Homo sapiens: one gene and its partners. The protein of the gene in region 3 purifies or fractionates together with the protein of the main gene of each other region. This does not show direct contact. Each region holds a gene or a part of one and is shown on either strand. Other genes may lie near its edges.

Region 1 (7,028 bases), on a different chromosome or scaffold from region 3:
GGCCATTCAGCCTCCATCAGGCACAGGTGAATGCAGGATCTCGGGGGCCTGGCCTGGAGGTTGATGTGCTTCAGTAGCTGTGTATTCGGTGTATCCAGTGGTCTGCCTGAGAGGAGGGCAGTAACTCCTGATCTCTCTCCCACAACACTGCCTTGCCCCTCTTCCAGGGCTGAGCTTGGCATGTGTGGTGTCCTTGGGGTAAGTAGGCCCCATTTCTCTCGACATATGAGGATACTTGTGGGGCTCAAATTCCATTAGGAAGCCACTAACTTTGGACTCTGAGCCCTTGGAGCAAACATCCCTCTGCTTTTTGGCACTCGCTTAGCCCTGATTGGGAACTCCTGTGGCCCTGGTCAGGATCCTGGATGTGAGCAGATGCCAAGCACTCCCTCTTGGGTCAGGGCTGCAGTGGGAGCCTGAATCATGTAAGGAAGCTGGCTGTGTGGGGTCGCAGCGGCCAGGGGAATGGCCACAGACCCTTCTTGGACAGAGAGACCCTCCCTCTGCATGCTCTCTGGGTCAGCAAGGAGAGCCCAGGAACTTAGATCCCAGATAAAAGTGACATGTCCCAGAGTGCCCGGTTAGTATTGCAGCTCCTTGAGGAAGGAAGGTCATGGCAGACAGCACTCCCTTCCCCCAGCTTGGCAGCAGCTGACATCTGCTCACAGGACCATGTGAGCCCAGCAGCAGTGCAGAGGCCTAGATTATATTCAGAGAAGTTTCTTCAAAGCTGCCTTAGGCCCTTTGCTTCTGGTTGACATGATCTAGTCGCAGAGGCTCCAGCAGCCACACGCAGGGACCTGGGCTAGAAGATGATAGAAATCTAGCCTCAGTTAATGCCACAACCTTCAGCTAAAGGTGGAAGGCTGGTAGGACATGGTATCCTTGGGACCTCAGTTTCCTTAATTGTAAAATGAGCCAACTCTAGTCTTTCCAACACTAGGATTTTTGATTCTATGCAGCCTCTGTAAGTGTTATTGTTCAAAGGTTTTTAACTCCCCTGGCTGGCAGTTGCTATTTCGGGAAAAGGGCAAGACAAATACGGATGGGGTTCCCCTAACCAAGAAGGGAAAGGCAGCCTCTTGGGACAGCGTGACTGCCCTAATGAAGACTATTTTAGGCTCACCTGGCTAAACCATAAATCCAATTTTATCATTTCCTCACCTAAAACCCTCTGTTGCAATGGTTGTCAAACTCCAATATGCAACTCCTTTAACAAGCCTTCTGGGTGAGTTTACACGACTTAACCAGGTGCCACCCCCAGATCCCTACTGCATCAAGCTCTGGGGGTAGAGCCTAATAATTTGCATTTCCAACAAGATCCTAGGTGATGCCGATGCTGCTGGTTCAGGACTGCACTTTGGGGACCACTGTTCCCAGGGCTATTCATTGCAATTAGAACAAATTCCACAAGGTAGTACATGAAGGGCTCTCACCCCTGGCTGTACACTCACATCACCTAGGGAACTTTTAGACAGATGAATGCCCAGGTCTCACCTCAGATCAATTAGGATCTCTGGGGGTAGGCCCCTAGCTGCATCTGTTTCCCTGGATTATTCAGTGGGCAATCAGGATTAAGAACCACTCTTGCCTGACCTGACCCCTGCCTGCTTCTGAAACTCAGCTCTTCTCACTTTGCCCTCCTTCACAGTATTCCAGCTCTTCTGGCCCTCTCTGTGGCCTCAGACGGTCCCAGCTCATGTCCACCCCAGAGCCTTTGCACTTGTTCAGTCCTCTTGCCAGGAACACTCAACCCCAGATCTCTGTGTGGTTGCCTCCCTCCCGTCATTCATGTCATGGTCAAGTTTCGTATCCTCAGAGAGGCCCTCCCTGACTCCCTTAGCTAAAGTGGCTCCTGCCACATCGCAGCAGACATTCTCCATCCCACTGTTGTCTTTTCCTCGTAGCCCCCAGGGAGGAAGGCCCAGCCTTTGTTTATTCATTTATTTGCATGTTTACCTTCTATTTCCTCTACCAGGTTGTAAGCTTTAAAGTGCAGGGATTTTCATTTCTCTTGTTTCTATATTGTCCCTATTACCTAGACCAGGGTCTGGTACATAGAAAAGAACTTAATACATAGTTGTTGAATGAATGAAGACAGGGAAGAAGACTTTAAATGTAAGTACCCTGCACAGATACTAGAAAGTAATTGGTTAAAAAGGAAGAAATACCCTTTTAGGCCGGGCGCAGTGGTTCACACCCGTAATCCCAGCACTTTGGGAGGCCGAAGCGGGTGGATCGCCTGAGCCCAGGAGTTTGAGACCAGCCTGGGCAACATGGCAAAAGCCCATCTCTACAAAAAATACAAAAAATTAGCCAGATGTGGTGGTACATACCTGTAGTCCAAGCTACTTGGGAGGCTGAGGTGGGAGAATCATCTGAGCCTGGGAAGTTGAGGCTCAGTGAGCTGATTGTGCCACTGCACTCCAGCCTGGGTGACTAGAGTGAGACCCTATCTTAAAAAAAAGAAATTAATTTTTAGGGCACCATGCAGAGGTCATAAGATCTCAGAGTAAACAAGCAAATGGAGCTGAAAACATGGGTTGTTTGAATGCAACTGCAGAGACTATAGGAAATTGTAAAAATTGAGGTTCTGAGCATAAAGTGTAAAAATGCATTTCAGCAGGTTATGTGACTTGTAGATGTGGTTATTTTGTGCATATTTTAAATGCTGGCCATCACTGTGCTGCTCATGTGGGCTGCTCTTGCCCCTGCCTTCCAATTTTAAAGGCCACAGGAAAATTATATAGAGAGGGAAGAAACAGGTAGTGAGGTATATGGAGCTCAGGAGCCCACACACCAGCAGCAGCTAGCCCAGTCTTTAGGACCCAGAAAACAAGTAACACGTGTCAGGGCCTCCTGAAGAAAAAGGTGACCAGCCACCAGGGTGGGAGGAAGAGGCTGTGTTCATGACCAAAGGCTCAAACAGGGACTAATGCAAAGCTCACAAAAATATGAGAAATAGAAGTAGGGAAAAACAAAAGCTGAGACTGTAAGCAAGGGGCTGCTGTCACCTGTTCTTTTAGATGGAAGGCAAAAACTGTGCCCACCTGAGCTGCTGGGTTGGGCGTATCCTGCGTAAATGATCCTGCATAAATCCTGCAAAAGCTGTTAGAATAAGGTATCAAAAAGGCCATTTTTCTTTTCCTTCCAACACATACACCTAAGGAATCAAGCTCTGCTGAAGCACAGGAAGATAGGGGACAGTCAAGAGCACAGGCTGCCAGGTCAGGTGGAGCTGTGTTCAACTCCGGCTCTGCCACTGAGTGACTTCACTGCTGCATGCTGGTCTCCACATGCTTATCTCAGCAGGCCACCTGAGGGTGCAAGAATGGTGCACATGAGGTGCTTAGCAGCCCGCAAGAGGTCATTGGTAGTTCTTATCGCCATCACCTGCTCTGCTCTAGCAACGGGGGTGAGAGGGACCAAGGGTGTCAGAGCTGTGCTGCCACTGCTGAAGCAGCCTCCCCCGCATGGTGGGAAGGCCCTGCCCCGAGCCCTTCCTTCTGGCCGCAGACACTGCAGAATGAGATTCTGGGCCATACGCCGCGGGTTGAGGATGTGCTGCAGAGAGGGCAGCAGCTGGTGGAGGCGGCGGAGATCGACTGCCAGGACCTTGAGGAGCGCCTGGGGCACCTGCAGAGCTCCTGGGACAGGCTGCGGGAGGCAGCGGCCGGGAGGCTGCAGCGACTGAGGGACGCCAACGAGGCACAGCAGTACTACCTGGATGCAGACGAGGCTGAGGCCTGGATTGGCGAGCAGGAGCTCTACGTCATCTCCGATGAGATCCCCAAGGTCTGTTCGGGCAGGGGATACCAGCCAGGGTGCCCAGGCAGAGAGGAAGAGTTGAGGTTGGCTGTCGGTAGGGAGCCTTGTGAGTCCAACTGTGTGAGGAGTGAGGCCAGGGGAGGGGCACAAGGAACCCACAGACTCCCTGCCCTCCCTTGGTGCCTCCTTGAACACACCCCTGCAGGGCACACACTGAAGCCAGGTGCCTCCTGTTTACCCACTTAGGTTTGCTCTAACCCAAGGGTTCTCTACTTTTCTTTACCCTGGATTCTGTACGCTATGAAAGAGATGGGGTGAGAGGTGACAGGTGGGGGTCTCTCAAAGCTGGAATGATATAGGATGTTTTCATGGGGACAGGGGTTAGAGCACAAAAGGAAGGGTATATGTCGGATACGAATCAGGGGAGTCCAGAGAGGAAGGTAGGGCACGGGCATTGCTGGGAAATCAGAAGGGCAGGAAGGAAGCATGTGTGGCTCTCCTGCGGGTGTCCCACAAGCCTACTCCCCTCCTCCCTCGGGCACCTCCAGGAGTGGGGGCACAACTTGCCAAGGGAGGGATCATGGCCAGACTGAGCTCTGGCGCTGACCGTCTGCTGCCTCCTAGGATGAAGAGGGCGCCATTGTGATGCTGAAGCGACATTTGCGGCAGCAGCGTGCGGTGGAGGACTACGGCCGGAACATCAAGCAGCTGGCCAGCCGGGCCCAGGGCCTGCTGTCTGCAGGCCACCCTGAGGGGTGCGTGCGCCCCCTGTGGTGACTCGGTCAGGAGATGGGGATTGAGCCAGGGGCCCACCAGCCAACGTCCCTTCAGATTTAAAAGGAAAATGGAAAGAGTTTTCCCATCAAATAGGGCTGGAGAAAATTGCTGCGGGACTGGTGATGGATCCAATTTCATTTTATGCCTTGGTTTTGTGTGAATCACTTCCAGCTGGGCCATCGAGGCCCTGGTTTTCGAAATGATCAGAGAAGGGGTTAGCAAAACTACCCTCTTGGTGACCTGAGAGCACCAATTTTCCGAAGGGTTACAATATGCTAAGGGACACTGAAGACTACTTTAGCTTTTATTTTTATGGTCCAGAAGGTCTCCAGGACTTCACAGTCCAGACAGAACCATGATGTAGGAGTGCAGGTGGAAACCTGTGCCCACATGGGCTGCGAGGTTTTGTGGATCCTGCATAAATGGAAGCCCACTGGGCCACAGACCACACACTGCCCCCAGCCATGGCCCTGTCCTCAGCTGCCATTAGGGTGCCCACCACTGTGGGTCCTCAGCAGCCACCCCAGAGGTTTCCCTGGGAGCCACATTGTCTGGGCCCCTAGTATGTCTTTTCCCTCCCTGGAGGGCTGAGCAGAGCTGTTGCTGCGGGAGCCCCACTCAGGTAGTGCTGCTCCCCCAGCCTCTCTGGAAGAACAATGGAGGCGTTCCCCATTTGCACTTGTCCCTGTAAGCTTGCCAGAGTGAGGGGCACCATGGGAAGCACCCCTCCAGGACAGAATTCCAGGACACAGTGTGTCATCCCCTGAGGCTAGGGTGTGGCCCCTTCTCTCCCCAGCTCTTCCCCGGCAAAGCCCCTGTCATTTCTCCAGAGCTTCACTCCCTACCTATCCCTGCCAGGGGGCTGTGGTTGGCATATGTTGGCTCCCTGGAGCCACGGCTCTGGGTTCGTGGCTGCCGTCTCTGAGGGCCTTTTTGGTTTTGAATTCCAGGGAACAGATCATCAGACTTCAGGGGCAAGTGGACAAGCACTACGCAGGGCTGAAGGACGTGGCGGAAGAGCGCAAGCGCAAGCTGGAGAACATGTACCACCTGTTCCAGCTCAAGCGGGAGACCGACGACCTGGAGCAGTGGATTTCAGAAAAGGAGCTAGTGGCCTCTTCCCCGGAAATGGGGCAAGACTTTGACCACGTGACTGTGAGTAGCCACAACTCCTGCTGTTTTTGTCTTTCTCTAATGCGGTAGACGCAGCCAGCCGTCACTCAAGACACACAGAGTGCTGCATAGGACGTAACCTCCCCAGTGTGAGGCGGGACCAGCCGATGCAGGCCTGCCCTGGGGAAGGTGTGACAGCGCAGCTCCCGGAGCTGCAGTTGCTGCCTGGGAAAGTCTTTGGCTAAGCTGGTGACACCTGTAACCCCTGTGCCCCCCATAACCACATTTCTGTCTGCCCCATGCCTAGCTTCTGCGGGACAAGTTCCGGGACTTTGCCCGGGAGACCGGGGCGATTGGGCAGGAGCGGGTGGACAATGTGAATGCCTTCATCGAGCGACTCATCGACGCGGGCCACAGCGAGGCGGCCACCATCGCCGAGTGGAAGGACGGGCTGAACGAGATGTGGGCAGACCTCCTGGAGCTCATTGACACGCGCATGCAGCTGCTGGCCGCCTCCTATGACCTGCACCGCTACTTCTACACGGGTGCCGAGATCCTGGGCCTCATCGACGAGAAGCACCGCGAGCTGCCCGAGGACGTGGGGCTGGACGCCAGCACGGCCGAGTCCTTCCACCGGGTGCACACAGCCTTCGAGCGGGAGCTCCACCTGCTGGGTGTCCAGGTACCTTCAGCCCCCTGCCGCCCACCTGCTACCAATTTCCAGGAGCCCTGGGTGTCAGTCCCCACCTGGCTGTCAGCAGGAAAACCTCTAGGATAAGTGCCAGGAGGTTTTGCCTCCTTAGACAGCCAGGAGCTCAGGGCTGGGAGCAGTGGCTTTCAGATGTTCCTTAGCTTCAGAAGTCATTCTTTAAACTGAATCCTCACAAAAGGCCAATGCATACAATACTATACGGTTGCAGTTTCTCCAGTTGTGCAGTACTATTAGTGGACACACGCACAGCACTTTTCTAGCACCAGGTGCTCTTCTGAGCAATGTATGTAGCCGCTGGACCCTCATGGCAGTCCTCTGAGGCAGCTACTAATATTCCCTGCACTTTGTAGATGAGAAAAGGGAGAGGTAGAAGACCCATAAGTTTCCCAGGAACATGTAGGTACGAAGTGGAGCCAGGGCTCAGACCCTGGCAGTCTAGCTATAGACCCCACATACTTAGCCACCGGGCACTTCAGCCTTTCCACATGGGAGCTGGAGAGCCCCCAAGTTCTACTGTTCAGACCCCTGCCCCATCACTGGAGTGCCCTCCGCAGATCCGTAGGGTGCCCCAGAGCTTGGTGTGATAGAAAGGGCAAATGCAAGGGGGCCCCTGTTGCTGAGGGCTCCCCCAGCTTCCAGTGCAGCAGGGAGAGGTAGG
Region 2 (7,028 bases), on a different chromosome or scaffold from region 3:
TCCCAGCACCTTGGGATGCCAAGGTCGGTGGATCACCTGAGGTCAGGAGTTCAAGACCAGCCTGGCCAACATGGCGATACCTCGTCTCTACTAAAAATACAAAAATTAGCCAGGCATGGCAGCACACACCTGTAATTCCAGCTACTCGGGAGGCTGAGACAGGAGAATCGCTTGAACCCAGGAGTTGGAGAATGCAGTGAGCCTATATCGCGCCACTGCACTCCAGCCTGGGAGACAGCAATACTCTGTCTCAAAAAACAACAAAAAAAAACAAGGCTGGGCACAGTGGCTTATGCCTGTAATTCCAGCACTTTGGGAGGCCAAGACGGGTGGATCACCTAAGGTCAGGAGTTTGAGACTAGCCTGGCCAACATGGTAAAACCCCGTCTCTACTAAAAATACAAAAAATTAGCCGGACATGATGGCAGGCGCCTGTAATCCCAGCTACTTGGGAGGCTGAGGCAGGAGAATTGCTTGAACCTGGGAGGTGGAGGATGCACTGAGCCGAGATCATGCCACTGCACTCCAGTCTGGGCAACAAGAGTGAAACTCCGTCTCAAAAAAAAAAAAAGTAAAAAAAAGAAAAAAAAATTTAAAAAAGAAAACTGAAGCTTAGAAAGGAAGTAACTTGCCCAAGATCACATGGAAGACAGGTGGCATAACCTAAATCTTAACACAGTCTGGCACGAAATCCTTAACGTCTTTGTTCTTCTCCCATTCATCACCACATCTTTATATTAAATTTTCTAGAAAAAAAAAATAGGCCAGGTGCAGTGGCTCATGCCTGTGATCACAGCACTTTGGGAGGCTAAGGTGGGAGGATCACTTAAACTCAGGAGTTTGACACCAGCCTGGGCAACACAGTGAGACCCCCATCTCGATGTTAAAATACACATATATAAATTTATTTAAAAAAGAAAAAATATTTCACAGTATACATATTAATAGTCACTTACACCAAAAAGTCCTATTCTGCCCCTCCATCTCTATAGTTTTTCAAAATGAACATTGTATGAAACTAAAAAAGTAGGAACCGAAGCTGGATTGCTCCAGAAAAACACACAGATTATTAATTACTTATAATTTTGCTCCTAGCCAAATAATTTGAGTTGTGCTTTTTTATTTTAGTTTTTATTAGAGTAAAACACAGTCCTCAATCTTTATCTTTGTGGCAAAGCTGTTGCAATGCTGAGACTAATAAATCACCAACCATTATTAGGTCAGAAGAGAGTATACTTTCTGCTGAGATGATTCATTTTCAATTTCAAGATAAAAGAAAATATTGAGGAATTTCTTTATGAATCTAGGATACGAACGTTTTTCTTTTTCTTTTCTTTTTTTTTTTTTTTCTTTTGAGACGCAGCCTTACCCTGTCGCCCAGGCTGGAGTCCAAGGGCGCAATCTTGGCTCCCTGAACCTCCACCTTTTGGGTTCGAGCGATTCTCCTGCCTCAGCCTCCTGAGTAGCTGGGACTACAGGTGCCCACCACCACACCTGGCTAATTTTCTGTATTTTTAGTAGAGACAGGGTTTCACTGTGTTAGCCAGGATGGTCTCGATCTTCTGACCTTGTGATCCGCCCACCTTGGCCTCCCAAAGTGCTGGGATTACAGGTGTGAGCGACCAAGCCCGGCCTAAACATTTTTCTTAAGAAGACTTAAAAAGAATTTGGGAGGCCATGGTAGGTGGATCATTTGAGCCCAGGAGTTCGAGACCAGCCTGGCCAACATGGCTCTATAAAAAATACAAACATTAGCCCGGCCTGGTGGTGTGTGCCTGCATTTCCAACTACTTAAGAGGCCAAGGCAGGAGGATCATTTGAGCCCAGGAGGCAGAGGTTGCACTGATTCAAAATCACGGCACTCCAGCCTGGGCGACATTGCGAGACCCTGTCTGAAAACAAAAACAACAAGACTGAAAAAGCATAATCCATAAATTTAACTGCATTAAAATTAAAGTTCTGTTCATCAAAAGACAGCACATAGCTGGGAGTGGTAACTCACAAATACAGACACAGTTACTTGGGAGGCAGAACCAGGAGGATCATTTGAGACCAGGAGTTCAAGGAGGCAGTGCACCATGATCGTGACTGTGAATAGGCACTCCAGCCACAGTAACAGCGAGATCGCATCTCAAAAAAAAAATTTTAATTTAAATTAAAAAAAAATTTTTAATACCATAAAAAGAATGAAAAGGCAAGCTACAACTTGGGAGAATGGATTTACAATATATATAACCATACAGAACTGGAATCCAGAAAAATTTTTACACTCTTCTTAATCTATAAGAAAGAGACAATGCAGCCGGGCGCGGTGGCTCGCGTCTGTAATCCCAGCACTTTGGGAGGCCGAGGCGGGCAGATCACGATGTCAGGAGATCGAGACCATCCTGACTAACACGGTGAAACTCCATCTCTACCAAAACTACAAAAAAATAGCAGGGTGTGGTGGCGGGCGCATGTAGTCCCAGCCACTCGGGAAGCTAAGGCAGGAGAATGGCGTGAACCCGGGAGGCGGAGCTTGCAGTGAGCTGAGATCGTGCCACTGCACTCCAGCGTAGATAACAGAGCAAGATTCTGTCTCAAAAAAGAAAAATAAATAAATCAATAAATAAAAATTGGCCTTGATACTTATCTACTTATAGCAGCTTTCTTCAGTCACTAAAAACTGGAAAAAAACTAAATGTCCATAAACAGGTGAATGAATACACAAATTGCAGTCTATATACTGGAACACTACTCAGCAAGAAGAAGGAATGCACTAACAGATAGGCTCAACAACAAGAATGAATCTCAAAAGCACTAGGCTAAGCAAAAGACGCCAGGTAGGGTGGTGGCTCATGCCTGTAATCCCAAAACTTTGGGAGGCCAAGGTGGGAGGGCTGTGTGAGGCCAGGAGTTCAAGACCAGCCTGGGCATCAACAGCCAGATTCCACCCCCACAAAAAATTTTTAAAAATTACCCAGGACTGGCCAGGCACAGTGGCTCACGCCTGTAATCCCAGCACTTTGGGAGGCCAAGGTGGGTGGATCGTGAGGTCAGGAGTTCAAGACCAGCCTGGCAAAGATGGTTAGCCAGGCGTGGTGATGGGCTCCTGTAATCCCAGCTACTCAGGAGGCTGAGGCAGAGAATCGCTTGAACTCAGGAGGCAGAGGTTACGGTGAGCCGAGATCGTGCGACTGCACTCCAGCCTGGTGACAGAGTGAGACTCTGTCTCAAAAAAAAAAAAAAAAAAAAAAAGAGCCAGGCCTGGTGGCATATGCCTGTCGACTCAGTTATTCAGGAGGCTGAGATGGGAGGACACTTGAGCCCAGGAGCTGGAGGCTGCACTCAGCAAGGACTGTGCAACTGCACTCCAGCCTGGGCAACTGAGAAAGATTCTGTCCCTTCAAAAAACAAAACAAAACAAAACAAAAATGAAAGCCAGACTCAAAAGGCTACACATCATATCACATGATTCCATTTGTTATAGAAATCCCATCAGCAGCTGCCAGAGATAAGGGATGGAGATTGAGTACACAGGGGGACCAAGGAACTGTTTGGAGTGATGGAAACGTTCTACATCATGATTACGGCAGTGGTTACATGACTACATCCATTTGTCAAAACCCAACAAACTCTACAATTATACCTGCATAAACCTGGATTTTTTTTTTTTAATCACTCTGGCTATATGGAAGATAAAATGGAAGAAGGAAATGCTACTGTGAGGGAAGAGTTGTCTCCAAGTATGTTCAGCTGCTTTGGACATACAGAGCTTGATTTTCTCGCAGATCCTGAAGTGGAGACACGAAGTAGGCAGCCACCGTGGGTCTGCAGTTCTTCTCTTCAACACAGGAGTCATCCACTGCAGCACTTTTGCAAATATCATTAGGTTAGCCTTGTAACTGCACATTCCAGCATCTTACCTTTCCTTGAGAGTGAAAACTAATCTCCACACTTCTCAGTACTCTGAACTGTACTTTCCAATATCATAGCCATTAGCCACAGTGGCTATTTAAATGGCAATTAAAATGCCATAAAATTGAAAATACATCTGTCGCACTAGCCCCATTTCCATCATCACTGGAAGTTCTACAAAACAGTGATGCTCTGGGCCAGGCGCGGTGGCAGCATTTTGGGAGGCCAAGGCGGGCAGATCACGAGATCAGGAGATTGAGACAATCCTGGCTAACACAGTGAAACCCCATCTCTACTAAAAAATACAAAAAAATTAGCCAGGCATGGTGGCGGGCGCCTGTAGTCCCAGCTACTCGGGAGGCTGAGGCAGGAGAATGGCATGAACCCGGGAGGCGGAGCTTACAGTGAGCCAAGATCGAGCCACTGCACTCCAGCCTGGGCGACAGAGTGAGACTCTGTCTCAAAACAAAACAAAACAAAACAAAACAAACAAACAAAAAAACAGTGTTGCTCTGGAAGATTACCTGCAAGTTGTGTGTTTTTTTTGTTTTTTTCAGATGGAGTCTCGCTCTTGTCACCCAGGCTGGAGTGCAGTGGCACGATCTAGGCTCACTGCAACCTCCACCTCCTGGGTTCAAGCGATTCTTCTGCCTCAGCCACCCGAGTAGCTGGGATTACAGGCACCCACCACCACACCCGGCTAATTTTTGTATTTTTAGTACAGATGGGGTTTCACCATATTGGCCAGGCTGGTCTCGAACTCCCAACCTCAAGATCCGCCTGCCTCAGCCTCCCAAAGTGCTGGGATTACAGGTGTGAGTCACCACACCCGGCCTTTTTTTTTTTTTTTTTTTTTTTTCTTTGAGACAGAGCTTCACCTTGTCACCCAAGCTGGAGTGCAATGGCGTGATCTCAGCTCACCACAACCTCCAACTCCTGGGCTCAAGCAATTCTCCTCCCTCAGCCTCCCGAGTAGCTGGGATGACAGGCATGCACCACCACGCCCAGCTAATTTTTATTGTATTTTTAGTATTTTTAGTAGAAACGGGCTTTCACCATGTTAGCCAGGCTGGTCTCGACTCCTGACACAGGTGATCCACCTGCCTCGGCCTCCCAAAGTGCTGGAGTTATACGCGTGAGCCACCATGCCTGGCCTAAGTTTTCTTATAGTGTTAACACTCATTGATGCCAGGAAGCACTTCACAGTAGTTGCCAAGCAGCACAGGCTCTTGATTATTAATTAGTGACAGTAATAGCCCAAAGCATTGTTTCATAAAATAAATGGCACTTTTATAAACTATAAAAAAGACTTTCACACTTCAGACTGGGGTTTTCCTCTGAAAAATCTAAGTCTTTTTTTTTTTTTTTTTTGAGACAGAGTTTCGCTCTTGCCCAGGCTGTAGTGCAACGGTGCGATTTGGCTCGCTGCAACCTCCGCCTCCCAGGTTCAAGTGACTCTCCTGCCTCAGCCTCCCGAGTAGGTGGAATTACAGGCACACGCCACCATGCCTGGCTAATTTTTGTATTTTTAGTAGAGATGGGGTTTCACCATGTTGGCCAGGCTGGTCTCAAACTCCTGACCTCAGGTGATCTACCTGCCTTGGCCTCCTAAAGTGCTAGGATTACAGGCGTTAGCCTACGCCCAGCCAAAAAATCTAAAAGTTTTAATTTTAAAAAATTATTTTCAGACCAGGTGCAATGGCTCACATCTGTAATCCAGCGCTTTGGGAGGCTGAGGCAGGCATATCACTTCAGGTAAGGAGTTCAAGACCAGCCTGGCCAACATGACGAAACCCCATCTCTACTAAAATACAAAAATTAGCCCGGTGTGGTGGGGCACGCCTGTAATCCCAGCTACTCAGGAGGCAGGAGAAGCACTTGAACCCAGGAGGTGGAGGTGACAGCGAGCTGAGATTGCGCCACTGCACTCCAGCCTGGGCAACAGAGCGAGACTCCATCTCAAAAATAAAAAAATATATATTTTTAGGCCAAGGTGGGAGGATCACTTCAGCTCAGGAGTTCAAGACCAGCCTGAACAAGAACGTAAAGCCCCATCTCTGCAAAAAAAAACACACAAAAAGGCCGGGTGCGGTGGCTCACGCCTGTAATCCCAGCACTTTGGGAGGCTGAGGCGGGCGGATCACAAGGTCAGGAGATCGAGACCATCCTGGCTAACACGGTGAAACCCTGTCTCTACTAAAAAAAATATATATATACAAAAAATTAGCCAGGCGTGGTGGTGGGCGCCTGTAGTCCCAGCTACTTGGGAGGTTGAGGCAGGAGAATGCCGTGAACCTGGGAGGCAGAGTTTGCAGTGAGCAGAGATCATGCCACTGCACTCCAGCCTGGGCGACAGAGAGAGACTCTGTCTCAAAAAAAAAACAAAAAAAACACACACACACAAAATTGTGGGGCTTGGTGGTGTGCACCTGTATTCACAGCTACTCAGGAGACTGAGGTGGGAAGATCACTTGATACCATAAGGTTGAGGCTGAGGTGAGCCAAGATTGCACCACTGCATTCCAGCCTGGGTGACAGAGCAAGACCCTGTCTTACACATATATACATATATATTTTTTGTATTTTTTTAGACAATACATATACATTTACATATATATATATATATATATATATATATATATATATATATATATATATTTTTTTTTTTTTTAGATGGAGTCTCACTCTGTCGCCCAGGCTGGAGTACAGTGGTGAGATCTTGGCTCACTGCAACCTCTGCCTCCCAGGTTCAAGCTATTCTCCTGCCTTAGCCTCCCAAGTAGCTGGGATTACAGGTGCATGCCACTATGGTCGGCTAATTTTTGTATCTTTAGTAGAGATAGGGTTTCACCATGTTGGCCAGGCTGGTCTCAAACTCCTGACCTCAGGTGATCCGCCTACCTCGGCCTCCCAAAGTGGTGGGATTACAGGCGTGAGCCACCACGCCTGGCCATATATGTATATTTTTTAGGCCAGGCACGGTGGCTCACGCCTGTAATCCCAGCACTTTGGGAAGCTGCAGCAGGAAAATCACTTGAACCTCGGAGTTCAAGACCACCTGGGCAAGATACAGAGACTCCTATCCCTATTTAAAAAAAAAATGCAAAATGAAAGAAATTTAAATATTTTAA
Region 3 (5,800 bases):
GATAAATCATCCCATTCCTGCTCTCAGGAGAGAATCGCAGATCCATTTTTGGAGAAACACATAGACGTCATTCTGTAAAGAACTGTCAAGGGAGAATGGCTTTAAAGCAGACTACCATGTAGCACCTTTCCCTTAAATTCTCCAGCCAGAGCTTCCATCAGCGTTTTTCACATTGACTTAGAACAGGCTGCTTTCCATTTTTATGTTCAATGTAAAACAGGTATCATTGCCTTTGCTATTGTAACTAGGTTCTTTCTGTTGCATAGAGAGGATGTCACAAAGGGTGCTAGGAGAATAGGGTGGCCAGTGAGAAAAGCGGCTGAGGATGAGACTTCAGTGGGTATCCTGGAGACTCCAGGCTTAGAGGTGCAGACTCAAGTGTCAGACACCCAGGGCTGCCTGGTCCACACCACAGCGCCCTGGAGAGTTTTCAACCTGCCTCATCCCCAAAAGACAGTCCCCCTCCCCACCTTCATCCCCTGTACAGTGTCCAGCCACCTCCTCACCACATCTCCCAGGCTTGGGACCCAGGGACTTGCATTGATCTCTCTGCCCTTCAGAGGCTGCCAGCCTCCCTTTGTGTGTAGCCTATGAAATGCAGATTGTGTAGGTATTTCTGTGTGACCTTGGAGCCTACGTAACTGCATTTTTAAAAAATTACTGATTCGTGTATCTGCAATCCCAAAGCATGGCCCTGCTCAACTTTAAGGGATGTACTTGAACTGTGGCTTTTTCCTCCCTTGAAGGGCACTGTGTTGGCACTCACTGAAAATAACTTCGATGACACCATTGCAGAAGGAATAACCTTCATCAAGTTTTATGCTCCATGGTAAGTGGCTGTTTAATTAGAAACTACTTTGTCCATGTGTACTAAGTCACATCATGTTTTTCAGCTCATCTGCCACCCCTCCAGACTCAATGTTGGGCACATGTTACATTTATATGTAGGTCATGTTGTAGGAAATAAGGAACCGTTATCATGCTCCTATATTCAAATATTTTAAACTTCAATGGCCTTAATTATATATGGAGAATGAGGCTACAGTTATATCAACTTTGATTATATATGGAGAATGAGGCTAAAGTTATATCAACTTTGGAGAAAACATAAAAATGGAGGCAAATTATGATGGCCATATTCAGTTTTGTGGTATCTGCACTTTTCCAAATAGATGGCTTTTCTTTTTGGCTAAACAATGAGTGTCATGATGTAGCTTTGCTCCTCGGTTCTTTTAAGTACTCGGATTTCTTTTGTAGAGAAATCCAGTAGAGTCTGTTAGAGCCATTCAGTATGCTACGCAGTTTCCTGAACCTGCATGCCACGTGGTCTTGGAGACCAGAGCAGAAATGGATTGCAGGTAGTGTGAGATCCAGACAACCTTGGTTCTAAGACTTACCGTGAATGACTGTATAGTAAACTTGGATGTCCTTTAATTCCTTTGAACCCCAGTTCCCTCAGCTGAAAAATGGGAGTAACTTTTTGTCTTCACAAATAAAACAATCCATTTGGAAAAGCAGAGTGTTAGGACAACAGTAGATTGTTTATCTAAACATGATAAAGGCGTCACTTTTCTTGTTTGTTACACTCCACATGTTCCTGAGAAACTAACCATAGGGGTAAAAAGTTAATAAGCACAGGACTTGAACGAACCATAGCAATGCCTTTCAAATCATTTGCAACATTTAAAAACCTAAAGCTCCACAGATCAAGTATCAAAAAGGAGGATCCCCTTTGGCTGAAGGGGAGCCATCCATACGGCAGGAGGGGGTCAGAAGAGACAAGGGAACAGAGTCGGGTAGAAGGGAGGGTTTGAACCAAACTTAATCATGGCCTTGATGCTCACCCCACATCGCTGAAGTACCAAGGAGGCCTTAAAATGGTTTTGAAATTGTGAGACCATAAGCAATCAAATCTAAAATGTCTTTGGCATTCAAGTGACCTTTTAGAAATTGTGTGGCATCTGCCCTGTTCCCTGTTCCTCTGCTCCTGTGCTTTCATAAACCAGTTAGCACAGTTCACCATGGCATGGAAATGGTCTCAGAATCTCAACTTGTTTTGAGACTGGCTTGCTTCTGTCACATTATCTGAAAGTCTACCTTGGATCAACTTTTGGGTTCTTCATTTGGGATAGGAGGAGGAAGAGTTAATGTGCACCCAGTGGGAGAATTTGGTATTTTACAAATTTCTAGGCAATTGTTGACTGTCCCATACAGAAGAAACAGAGCTTGTCTTGGCAGCAGAGTGTAGGTGAATGATCTCGACCCAGGATTTCAACGAAGCTGCCATTTTTCTCGTCTTAGGTGTGGTCATTGTAAGACTCTGGCTCCTACTTGGGAGGAACTCTCTAAAAAGGAATTCCCTGGTCTGGCGGGGGTCAAGATCGCCGAAGTAGACTGCACTGCTGAACGGAATATCTGCAGCAAGTATTCGGTGGGTACTTGGATGGATGCTTATGGGAGCTCTCAGTATGGGGGCAGATCCCAAGGGAACTGTGCCTCAACCACGATAACTCACTCTGCTCTCATCTTCTCAACAATGTGGTTTTTATGTCCCTTTGAGTTGTTTGTTTGGAGAAGCAAAAGAGATCCTCTCTCAAAGGGAAGGCATTCTTCTTCGCCCGCTTTGTAGTTAGTATCCATGTTTCAGTGCAGGTTTTCAGGCCTTGCTGTCTGAGTAACAAGGCCGTGAAGTAACAGACCCCACGCCATAGACTGTGGGGCTTCCCACACCGCGACTCTTGATGATTGACCAGTGGTCTGTAGCCTTTGCCATAAATACCCGAGTCGCTCATTTTTCACACATAAGCCAGCATTATAAAATGCAGTGGCTGAATCTAAGAATCATTTCAACATAACCTCCTTTCTGAAAGGGCCATGCCAGCAAGTCGGTCCTGTGCTTGGGTTAACTACTGCCTTCATTCCAAGCTGTTAGCACAGTCTGATGGCCTGGAAGATTTGTCATTTTTTTTCTTCTTTGTTATTCAGACACTTTTGGAGCCCTTTAGATGGAGAATAGACGTAACCCAGACATAGTTTCCTTATCATTAAAAGATACCAGTTGTTTTTTGTGCCCTAAAATTCTTAGAAACGAGTTGCCACTGAAACATGTATCCTCAAGAGGATCTTGCTCTCATGGTCTGGTCTGCAGACCACCAGGGCATCGCCAGGGAGGTCATTGGAAATGCAGACTCCCAGGCCTGCTCAATCCAAATCTGCACCTTCAGCAGATCCGCAGGTGATCGTGTGCACAGTAAAGACTGAAAGCGTCTGCTTTAGGGTAAAGTCGTTCCTTTGAGGCTGATCTTTAATGATGTCATTTTGAATTCAGAAGTGAACACACAGCCCCACGGCTGTGCTTTCTAAACAGTAGTCTGCTCCTGTTTTAATGGAATATACACCTTTAAAAATTAGCCACAGAATTTTTCCAGCCACAACGGTAGGAGTGTATCTGGTTTTATTTAGGAAGCAATTTGCATGTGATCTGGACCGCTGGTTTGCAAACTTTTTTCTTTTTTGTTTTAAGGTACGAGGCTACCCCACGTTATTGCTTTTCCGAGGAGGGAAGAAAGTCAGTGAGCACAGTGGAGGCAGAGACCTTGACTCGTTACACCGCTTTGTCCTGAGCCAAGCGAAAGACGAACTTTAGGAACACAGTTGGAGGTCACCTCTCCTGCCCAGCTCCCGCACCCTGCGTTTAGGAGTTCAGTCCCACAGAGGCCACTGGGTTCCCAGTGGTGGCTGTTCAGAAAGCAGAACATACTAAGCGTGAGGTATCTTCTTTGTGTGTGTGTTTTCCAAGCCAACACACTCTACAGATTCTTTATTAAGTTAAGTTTCTCTAAGTAAATGTGTAACTCATGGTCACTGTGTAAACATTTTCAGTGGCGATATATCCCCTTTGACCTTCTCTTGATGAAATTTACATGGTTTCCTTTGAGACTAAAATAGCGTTGAGGGAAATGAAATTGCTGGACTATTTGTGGCTCCTGAGTTGAGTGATTTTGGTGAAAGAAAGCACATCCAAAGCATAGTTTACCTGCCCACGAGTTCTGGAAAGGTGGCCTTGTGGCAGTATTGACGTTCCTCTGATCTTAAGGTCACAGTTGACTCAATACTGTGTTGGTCCGTAGCATGGAGCAGATTGAAATGCAAAAACCCACACCTCTGGAAGATACCTTCACGGCCGCTGCTGGAGCTTCTGTTGCTGTGAATACTTCTCTCAGTGTGAGAGGTTAGCCGTGATGAAAGCAGCGTTACTTCTGACCGTGCCTGAGTAAGAGAATGCTGATGCCATAACTTTATGTGTCGATACTTGTCAAATCAGTTACTGTTCAGGGGATCCTTCTGTTTCTCACGGGGTGAAACATGTCTTTAGTTCCTCATGTTAACACGAAGCCAGAGCCCACATGAACTGTTGGATGTCTTCCTTAGAAAGGGTAGGCATGGAAAATTCCACGAGGCTCATTCTCAGTATCTCATTAACTCATTGAAAGATTCCAGTTGTATTTGTCACCTGGGGTGACAAGACCAGACAGGCTTTCCCAGGCCTGGGTATCCAGGGAGGCTCTGCAGCCCTGCTGAAGGGCCCTAACTAGAGTTCTAGAGTTTCTGATTCTGTTTCTCAGTAGTCCTTTTAGAGGCTTGCTATACTTGGTCTGCTTCAAGGAGGTCGACCTTCTAATGTATGAAGAATGGGATGCATTTGATCTCAAGACCAAAGACAGATGTCAGTGGGCTGCTCTGGCCCTGGTGTGCACGGCTGTGGCAGCTGTTGATGCCAGTGTCCTCTAACTCATGCTGTCCTTGTGATTAAACACCTCTATCTCCCTTGGGAATAAGCACATACAGGCTTAAGCTCTAAGATAGATAGGTGTTTGTCCTTTTACCATCGAGCTACTTCCCATAATAACCACTTTGCATCCAACACTCTTCACCCACCTCCCATACGCAAGGGGATGTGGATACTTGGCCCAAAGTAACTGGTGGTAGGAATCTTAGAAACAAGACCACTTATACTGTCTGTCTGAGGCAGAAGATAACAGCAGCATCTCGACCAGCCTCTGCCTTAAAGGAAATCTTTATTAATCACGTATGGTTCACAGATAATTCTTTTTTTAAAAAAACCCAACCTCCTAGAGAAGCACAACTGTCAAGAGTCTTGTACACACAACTTCAGCTTTGCATCACGAGTCTTGTATTCCAAGAAAATCAAAGTGGTACAATTTGTTTGTTTACACTATGATACTTTCTAAATAAACTCTTTTTTTTTAAAAGTCTGGTCTTTCCTTCAATGTTACAGCAAAACAGATATAAAATAGACAATAAATTATAGTTTATATTTACAAAAAAAGCTGTAAGTGCAAACAGTTGTAGATTATAAATGTATTATTTAATCAGTTTAGTATGAAATTGCCTTCCCAGTACATGATTGTGAAAAAGACATTTAGAAAATATTCTAAAATTTAATCTGAGCCTCACTTTCTACAAGGGAAATCATGATTTCCGTTCATAAACAGCATGCTCATCCCCCTAACACCATTCTTATAAGCTGGGCACCCTCATTTTATTTTCTTCGTTGGTTCTAACCCTGTGGCGTGGTATGCTGTATAGTAAAAAGGCAGAGAACCACTTTACTGAAAAGGTACTAGAGCCGGCAGTCCAGAAGTTAATGTGCTGGTCAAAGAACCGTTCTGGTAAAGAAGAGGTGAGCATTGCCTTCACGTGTTACACGGTTACACACCCCTTGTAGCCTCACCTCAGTGTAATCAGTCTACTTTTGGTACTAGCAAAGAGTACAGCA
Region 4 (7,028 bases), on a different chromosome or scaffold from region 3:
GTGGAGTGAAAATAAACAAACTGTGTCCGTCCATACAATCTCGTATGGACGGACACAGTTTGTTTATCCATTAACTGGTTGATGGACTGTTGGGTTGTTTCCATTTTGACAACTGCAAATAAAGTTGCTGTGAACATCTGGATATGTGTCTCTGTGTGGACGTATATTTTCATCCTCTTGGGTAAATACTTAAGAGTAGAATGACTAGTTCATATGGTAGATGTGTTTAAATTTCTTTTTTTTTGAGACAGGGTCTCACTCTGTTGCCCAGGCTGAAGTGCAGTGGTGCAATCACGGCTTACTGTAGCCTCTACCTCCTTGGGCTCAGGTGATCCTCCCACCTCAGCCTTCCAAGTAGCTGGTAGGTACTACAAGGGCGTATGCCACCACACCCAGCTATTTTTTCTGTGCTTTTGTTGAGACAAAGTCTTGCCATGTTGCCCAGGCTGGTCTTGAATTCCAGGGCTCAAGCAATCTTCCCACCTCTGCCTCCCAAAGTGCTGGGATTACAGGTGTGAGCCACTACGCCTGGCTATGTTTTAATTTTTTTTTTTTTTTTTTTTTTTTTGAGATGGAGTCTCTCTCTGTTGCCCAGCAGTTGTTCACTGCAACCTCTGTCTCCTGGGTTCAAGTGATTCTCCTGCTTCAGCCTCCTGAGTAGCTGGGATTGTAAGGATGCGCCACCACACTCAGCTAATTTTTGTATTTTTAGTAGAGACGGGGTTTTGCCATGTTGGCCAGACTGGTCTTGAACTCCTGACCTCAGGGGATCCGCCTGCTTCGGCCTCCCAAAGTGCTGGGATTACAGGTGTGAGCCACTGAGACTGGCCATGTTTTAATTTTTAGGAAACTGCCAAGCTTGTTCCCAAAGTGGCTGTACCATTTTGCATCCCCACCAGCAATGTTCAAGAGTTCCAGCTCCTCCTCATCCTCACTAACACCTGGTATGGCCAGTCCTTAGTTTTAGCCATTCTTATAGGTGTGTGCTGGTGTCTTCATTTGGTGTTTTTATTTATTTATTTATTTGTGAGATGAGGTCTCACTCTGTCGCCCAGGCTGGAGTGCGATGGTGCGATCCTAGCTCACTGCACCCTGGAACTCCTGGGTTCAAGCAATCTTCGGGCCTCAGCCTCTGGAATAAGTGGGATTACAGGTGTGCACACCACTGTTCCCAGTCTTATTTTGGTTTTAATTTGCATTTCTCTAATAACTAATGATGTTGGACAGTTTTTCATGAGCTTCTTAGCTATTCATCTCTTTGGTAACGTGTCTTTTCAAATGTTTGGGCCATTTTTAAGTTGGGTTGCCTTTTTTTTTTTTTTTTTTTTAAGACTGAGTCTCGCTTTGTTGCCCAGGCTGGAGTGCAGTGGTGCGATCCTAGCTCATTGTAACCTCCACCTCTTGGGTTCAAGCGATTTTCATGTCTCAGCCTCCCGAGTAGCTGGGATTACAGGTGCATGCTACCACACCCGGCTAATTTTTGTATTTTTAGTGGAGACGGGGTTTCACCATGTTGGCTAGACTGGTCTCAAACTCCTGACCTCAGGTGATCTGCCTGCCTCAGGCTCCCAAAGTGCTGGGATTAGAGGCATGAGCCACCACACCCGGCTCTTTTTCTTTTTTCTTTTTTTTTTTTTTGAGATGGAGGCTTGCTCTGTTGCCCAGGCTAGAGTGCAGTGGCGTGATCTTGGCTCACTGCAACCTCTGCCTCCCAGGTTCAAGCAATTCTCCTGCCCCAGCCTCCCGAGTAGCTGGGATTACAGGCGTGTGCCACCACACCCGGCTAATTTTTGTATTTTTAGTAGAGACGGGGTTTCTCCATGTTGGTCAGGCTGGTCTCGATCTCTTGACCTTGTGATCTGCCCGCCTCAGCCTCCCAAAGTGCTGGGATTACGGCGTGAGCCACCATGCCCGGCCCTCTTTCTTAAAAGACATCTTTGTCATTCTCCCCTATCCTCCATCCTAGTGAAAAATCACTGTTTGGAGCAACTGATAGGGGCATCTCATGCCTCAGGTGCTAGTGTGGGGAGAACCCCTAATGTGGCAAGATGGAGCATGCAGAAAATGGATCATATTTTGAGGGAGATTGGTACAAGACATTCTCCCAAAAGTCATTTTGAGACATTGAGTCTTTGTAGCATTGTTCGTCTGTTCCTTCATTTATTGCAAATGGGACAGCCAGGCCTGGAGCACGACCCACCTCCTCGCCTCAACCTGCCCACGTCTCCTTCCTCTTCATCCTTCCACTCTCCAAGGTTCTGGCCCCTCAGAGCCACCTGCCTGACCATGCAAGCTCAAGTAGTCCCCAGGACACTTTTGCTAGTCACCTAGTGTGTGTGTGTGTGTGTGTGTGTGTGTGTGTGTGTGTGTGTGTTTGAGATGGAGTTTCGCTTTTGTTGCCCAGGCTGGAGTGCAGTGGCATGGTCACTGCAACCTCCACCTCCCGGGCTCAAGCAACTGATTCTCTTACCTCAGCCTCCCGAGTAGCTGGGATTACGGGCGCCTGCCACCAAGCCTGGCTAATTTTGTATTTTTAGTAGAGGTGGGGTTTCTCCATGTTGGCCAGGCTGGTCTGGAACTCCTGACCTCAGGTGATCTGCCTGCCTGGGCCTCCCAAAGTGCTGGGATTACAGGCGTGAGCCACTGCGCCCGGCTTGTGGTTTTTTGTTTGTTTGTTTGGTTTGGTTTGAGGAAGAGTCTCACTCTGTCGCCCATGCTGGCATGCAGTGTCGTAGCTACCTGCAGCCTTCTTGACCTCCTGGGCTCAAGCTATCCTTCTGCTTCAGCCTCCCGAGTAGCTGGGACTACAGGCATCTACTAACACACCTAATTTTTTTTTTTTTGAGACATTGTCTCATTCTGTCGCCCAGGCTAGAGTGCAGTGGCACAATCTGGACTCACTGCAACCTCCACCTCCTGGGTTTAAGCGATTCTCCTGCCTCAGCCTCCTGAGTAGCTGGGATTACCAGTGCACGCCACCACGCCCAAATAATTTTTGTATTTTTAATAGAGACGGGGTTTCACCATGTTGGCCAGGGTGGTCTTGATCTCCTGACCTCGTGATCCACCTGCCTTGGCCTCCCAAAGTGTTGGGATTACAGGCGTGAGCCACTGTGCCTAGCCCACACCTGACTAATTTTTAAAAATTGTTTTGGGCCGGGCGCGGTGGCTCATGCCTGTAATCCTAGGACTTTGGGAGGCCGAGGTGGGCAGATCACTTGAGGTCAGGAGTTTGAGACCAGCCTAGCCAACATGGTGAAACCGCTTCTCTACTAAAAATACAAAAATTAGCCAGGATTGGTGGCACGTGCCTGTAATCCCAGCTACTCGGGAGGCTGAGGCAAGAGAATCACTTGAACCCGGGAGGCAGAGGTTGCAGTGAGCTGAGATCGCTCCACTGCGCTCCCACCTGGGCGAGAGAACCAGACTGTCTTAAAAAATATATATATTATTTTATAGAGATGGGGTCTTATTATTATTTTTTTTTGAGATAGAGTTTTGCTCTTGTTGTCCAGGCTATAGTGCAATGGCATGATCTCGGTTCACCAAAACATCCGCCTCCTGGGTTCAAGCGATTCTCCTGCCTCAGCCTCCCGAGTAGCTGAGATTACAGACATGTGCCACCATGCCTGGCTAATTTTGTATTTTTAGTAGAGATGCGGTTTCTCCATCTTGGTCAGGCTGGTCTCGAACTCCTGACCTCAGGTTATCCGCCCACCTTGGCCTCCTAAAGTGCTGCGATTACAGGCATGAGCCACTGTGTCCGGCCAAGATGGGGTCTGATTATGTTGCCCAGGCTGGTCTTGAACTCCTGGGCTCAAGTGATCTTCCTGCCATAGCCTCCCGAAGTGCTGGGATTACAAGCATGAACCACTATGCCCAACCTGTATTTTTGTTTTTTGTTTTTGAGGTACTATATATGTAACACAAAATTCACCCACTTTAAGTGAACAATTCAGTGGCATTTAGTACATTCACAGAATTGTGCAACCATCACTGCTGTCCAGTTCCAAAACATCTTTGTCCCCGCAAAAGGTGACCCCATCTTCATTAGCACTAACCCCCTATTCTCCATTGCCCAGCCCCTGACAATCACCAATCTGCAGTCTGTCTCTATCCGTTTTCAAGTTTTATAGGTAGAATCATGCACTATGTGGCCTTTTGAGTCTGGCTTCTTTCACTCAGCATGATGCTTTGGGGGTCATGCATGTTGTAGCCTAAATCAGCACTTCATTCCTTTTTATGGCTGAGTAATATTCCACTGTGTGGATGCACCACATCATCCATTCATCTGTTGATGGACACTTAGATTGGTTCCACCTTTTGGCTATTATGAATCATGCTGCTATGAACATGAGTGTACACATTTTTGTCTAAACACTCATGTTCAGTCCTTTGGGGTACACATCTAGGAGCAGAATTGCTGGGGCGCATGCTTGTTGTATATTCTTGATCATGCTGGTCACCACCTAACGTTATTTGTTGTGTTTCTCTGGTGCCTTGAGGTTGGAAAGCCTGTCTCTCTTGTGCCCTCTTGTGTGCCTGGAACATGAATGACACAGAAGGAGGAAGTGTCCCAGAGACGTGGCTGAGAGGGAGGAAGGGAGGGATGGGGGTGTGCAAAAGCTTATTGCTCTCTGAGGCTTGCAGTCTGGCAGGTAGGAATTCCCTTCTATGGGATCAGGTCGATCTTTTGCCTTTCCAGTGAGGCTTGTGGGGCTGCTGGGGGGCAGTGGGGGCTGGCCTTAGTCTCTAGCTGCCTTTCTAGCCTGCCAGGCAACGCCCGCATCTGCCTTTTTGTCCCACGAAGGTTTTGTCTTTTGGCCAGGGGCGGGGGCAGTTCCTGTCTTCCCCCTGGCCCTTCCAGCGGTACCACAACTCAAGAAACTGTCCCCAGGAGGGACTGCGCTCCCCCACCCCCGACCGCCCCCAACGTTATATAACTTGTTTGTTCCAACTTCTGTCTTCTGCAACCGAGGGGGAAAAAAGAAAGAGAAAAGCTTATTCTCCTTCCTTCCTATCTCGAGGGATCAACAAAAAACCCGTTGCCTAGTAGAGGTGGTCATTAATGACTGAGCCGAACCTCAGGGATGGACAGAGTGGGGCTGCCCTGGCTGGGGTGTGCGGAGAGGAGGTGGGGTCCTTGCTGCAAGCACAAAGGACACTTGTTCACCAGCTGGCCTCCTCCCAGCTCGGGCCGCGGGGTCTAGACTCCTTGGAGGGAAAGGAGGCTTGGGCCACTTGGGGTGTCGCAAGGGGAGGCAAACCCTCTGGGGAGTCGCACCTCCCCAGCTAAAATTCTGTCACTGTGAGGTACCTGACCGGCAGAGTTTTGGAGGAACCTTCTGGCCTTGCAGCCTCTCCGACATGGGCCTTTGGCATCCACGCTTTTTGGCCCACGCTCCCTGGAGACGCCTGGGTAGGGCCCAGGCTCACTGAGTCATGCTGTTCCTGGGGGTGAGGTGGGGGGATCTGGGTGAGGGATGTGCCAGCTTCAGGCATTTGCATAAGAAGTGGTGGCTAGGCTGGGTGCTTTGGCTCACTCCTGTAATCCCAGCACTTTGGGAGCCCAAGGCAGGCAGATTACAAGGTCCAGAGTTTGAGACCAGCCTGGCCAACATAGTGAAACCCCCTCTCTACTAAAAATACAAAAATTAGTCAGGTGTGGTGGTGGGCGTCTTTAATCCCAGCAACTCTGGAGGTTGAGGCAGGAGAATCGCTTGAACCTGGGAGGAGGAGGTTGCAATGAGCCGAGATCCTGCCACTGCACTCCAGCCTGAGCGACAGAGTGAGACTCTGTATCAAAAAAAAAAAAAAAAGAAGTGATGGCTGGGACGTTGTGCCCAGGGGCTTTGCTGCCTGCTGAAAGTGTTTGCATGGAAAGTTGTGGCCGAGACGCTGCGCCCGGTGGGTTTGTCACAGTCAGTCTGGCTGGGTGGCCTTTGCCTGTTGAAGCTTTCTCCACAATCTAGATCATCTCCACCAAGCCCAGAGGCCTTGGAAGGGTCCAGCCCCCCAGCTCCTGCTAGGAAGACTTAGGGGAAGAGGTGGCTTCCCAAGGAGGTTCTTGCTACTTTGGGGAAGTTCTCATTCCTTTGGCCTCTTGCCCCTTTCTTTTTTATTATTATTAATTTTTTTTGACGTCACTCTGAGCTCAGGCTGGAGTGCAGTGGCATGATTTTGGCTCACTGCAACCTCCGCCTTCTGGGTTCAAGTGATTCTCCTGCCTCAGCCTCCCAAGTAGCTGGGACTACAGGCGCCCACTACCATGCCTGGCTAGTTTTTGTATTTTTAGGAGAGATGGGGTTTCATCATGTTGGCCAGGCTGGTCTCGAACTCCTGACCTCAGGTGATCCACCTGCCTTGGCCTCCCAAAGTGCTGGGATTACAGGCATGAGCCAGTGCGCCCGGCCTCATGCCCCTTTCAGAAGGAGGATTTTGACCCTTCCAAGACGTGGACTCAAGTCCTTCTCCTGGAAAATGTGGTCAGATATGGCGGCATGAGGTGTCTCATCATACCCATGGGTGACTGTGGCTCCCTCTTTATGGGTTGTGGCTGTGACAGATTCCTCATCTGGGAAATGGGGCTCCAGGCCCACCAGGTGGGGGGTGTCTGGGAGGAAACGAGTGGGGAGAGGTCACATGTACCTCATCAGTGTTACTGTGGCAGTGCTGACGCCCATGATGGGGACACTGCCATCCTTCTGCCCGCCATGCCCGCATGGGCCTTGAGGGGATCGTCAATGCCAGCAAGCCTTGATGTGGCGTGCGTGTGTCAGGCAGGGAAAGGAGAGGGTGAACTTGAGCCATTGGGAAGACAGTAGTGCCATGACTTGGGCCGTAAGAGGGACAGCAGCAGGGGCAGCGAGAGAGTAGAGCACGTCCAGCGTGAGCTGGAGAGGGCAGGTTCCGCCAGGAGTAGGCCTGGGAGCAGGAGCTCGGCAGGGCGGGGGCAGGGGCGGCGGGGGGTGGCGCGTCTCAGCAGGGATGGGGGCAGGTGGAACTGGGCCAGCCCAAGAAGGGCACTG

The links.
Region 1: the proteins of TXNDC5 (region 3) and SPTB purify together in Homo sapiens (affinity purification with mass spectrometry; 2 studies listed by BioGRID and IntAct, with this or other methods). This does not show direct contact.
Region 2: the proteins of TXNDC5 (region 3) and WDR59 purify together in Homo sapiens (affinity purification with mass spectrometry; 2 studies listed by BioGRID and IntAct, with this or other methods). This does not show direct contact.
Region 4: the proteins of TXNDC5 (region 3) and KLHL26 purify together in Homo sapiens (affinity purification with mass spectrometry; 2 studies listed by BioGRID and IntAct, with this or other methods). This does not show direct contact.

The regions. Positions count from the first base shown.
Region 1 is NC_000014.9:64,771,892-64,778,919, reverse strand, and holds part of SPTB (spectrin beta chain, erythrocytic), read left to right. Parts: intron 1-3,168; coding exon of another isoform or gene 3,169-3,270; exon of another isoform or gene 3,271-3,501; intron 3,502-3,516; coding exon 3,517-3,795; intron 3,796-4,392; coding exon 4,393-4,523; intron 4,524-5,495; coding exon 5,496-5,700; intron 5,701-5,965; coding exon 5,966-6,340; intron 6,341-7,028.
Region 2 is NC_000016.10:74,975,107-74,982,134, forward strand, and holds part of WDR59 (GATOR2 complex protein WDR59), read right to left. Parts: intron 1-7,028. UniProt on the Homo sapiens protein: As a component of the GATOR2 complex, functions as an activator of the amino acid-sensing branch of the mTORC1 signaling pathway. The GATOR2 complex indirectly activates mTORC1 through the inhibition of the GATOR1 subcomplex.
Region 3 is NC_000006.12:7,880,990-7,886,789, reverse strand, and holds the end of TXNDC5 (thioredoxin domain-containing protein 5 isoform 1 precursor), read left to right. Parts: intron 1-746; coding exon 747-829; intron 830-2,301; coding exon 2,302-2,431; intron 2,432-3,523; coding exon 3,524-3,646; 3' UTR 3,647-5,273; downstream 5,274-5,800. UniProt on the Homo sapiens protein: Protein disulfide isomerase of the endoplasmic reticulum lumen involved in the formation of disulfide bonds in proteins. Can reduce insulin disulfide bonds.
Region 4 is NC_000019.10:18,640,009-18,647,036, forward strand, and holds part of KLHL26 (kelch-like protein 26), read left to right. Parts: intron 1-4,629; exon of another isoform or gene 4,630-4,658; intron 4,659-7,028. UniProt on the Homo sapiens protein: May play a role in endo(sarco)plasmic reticulum (ER/SR) mitochondrial signaling. May be part of the ubiquitin-proteasome system (UPS) and affect ubiquitination and degradation of target substrates in cardiomyocytes.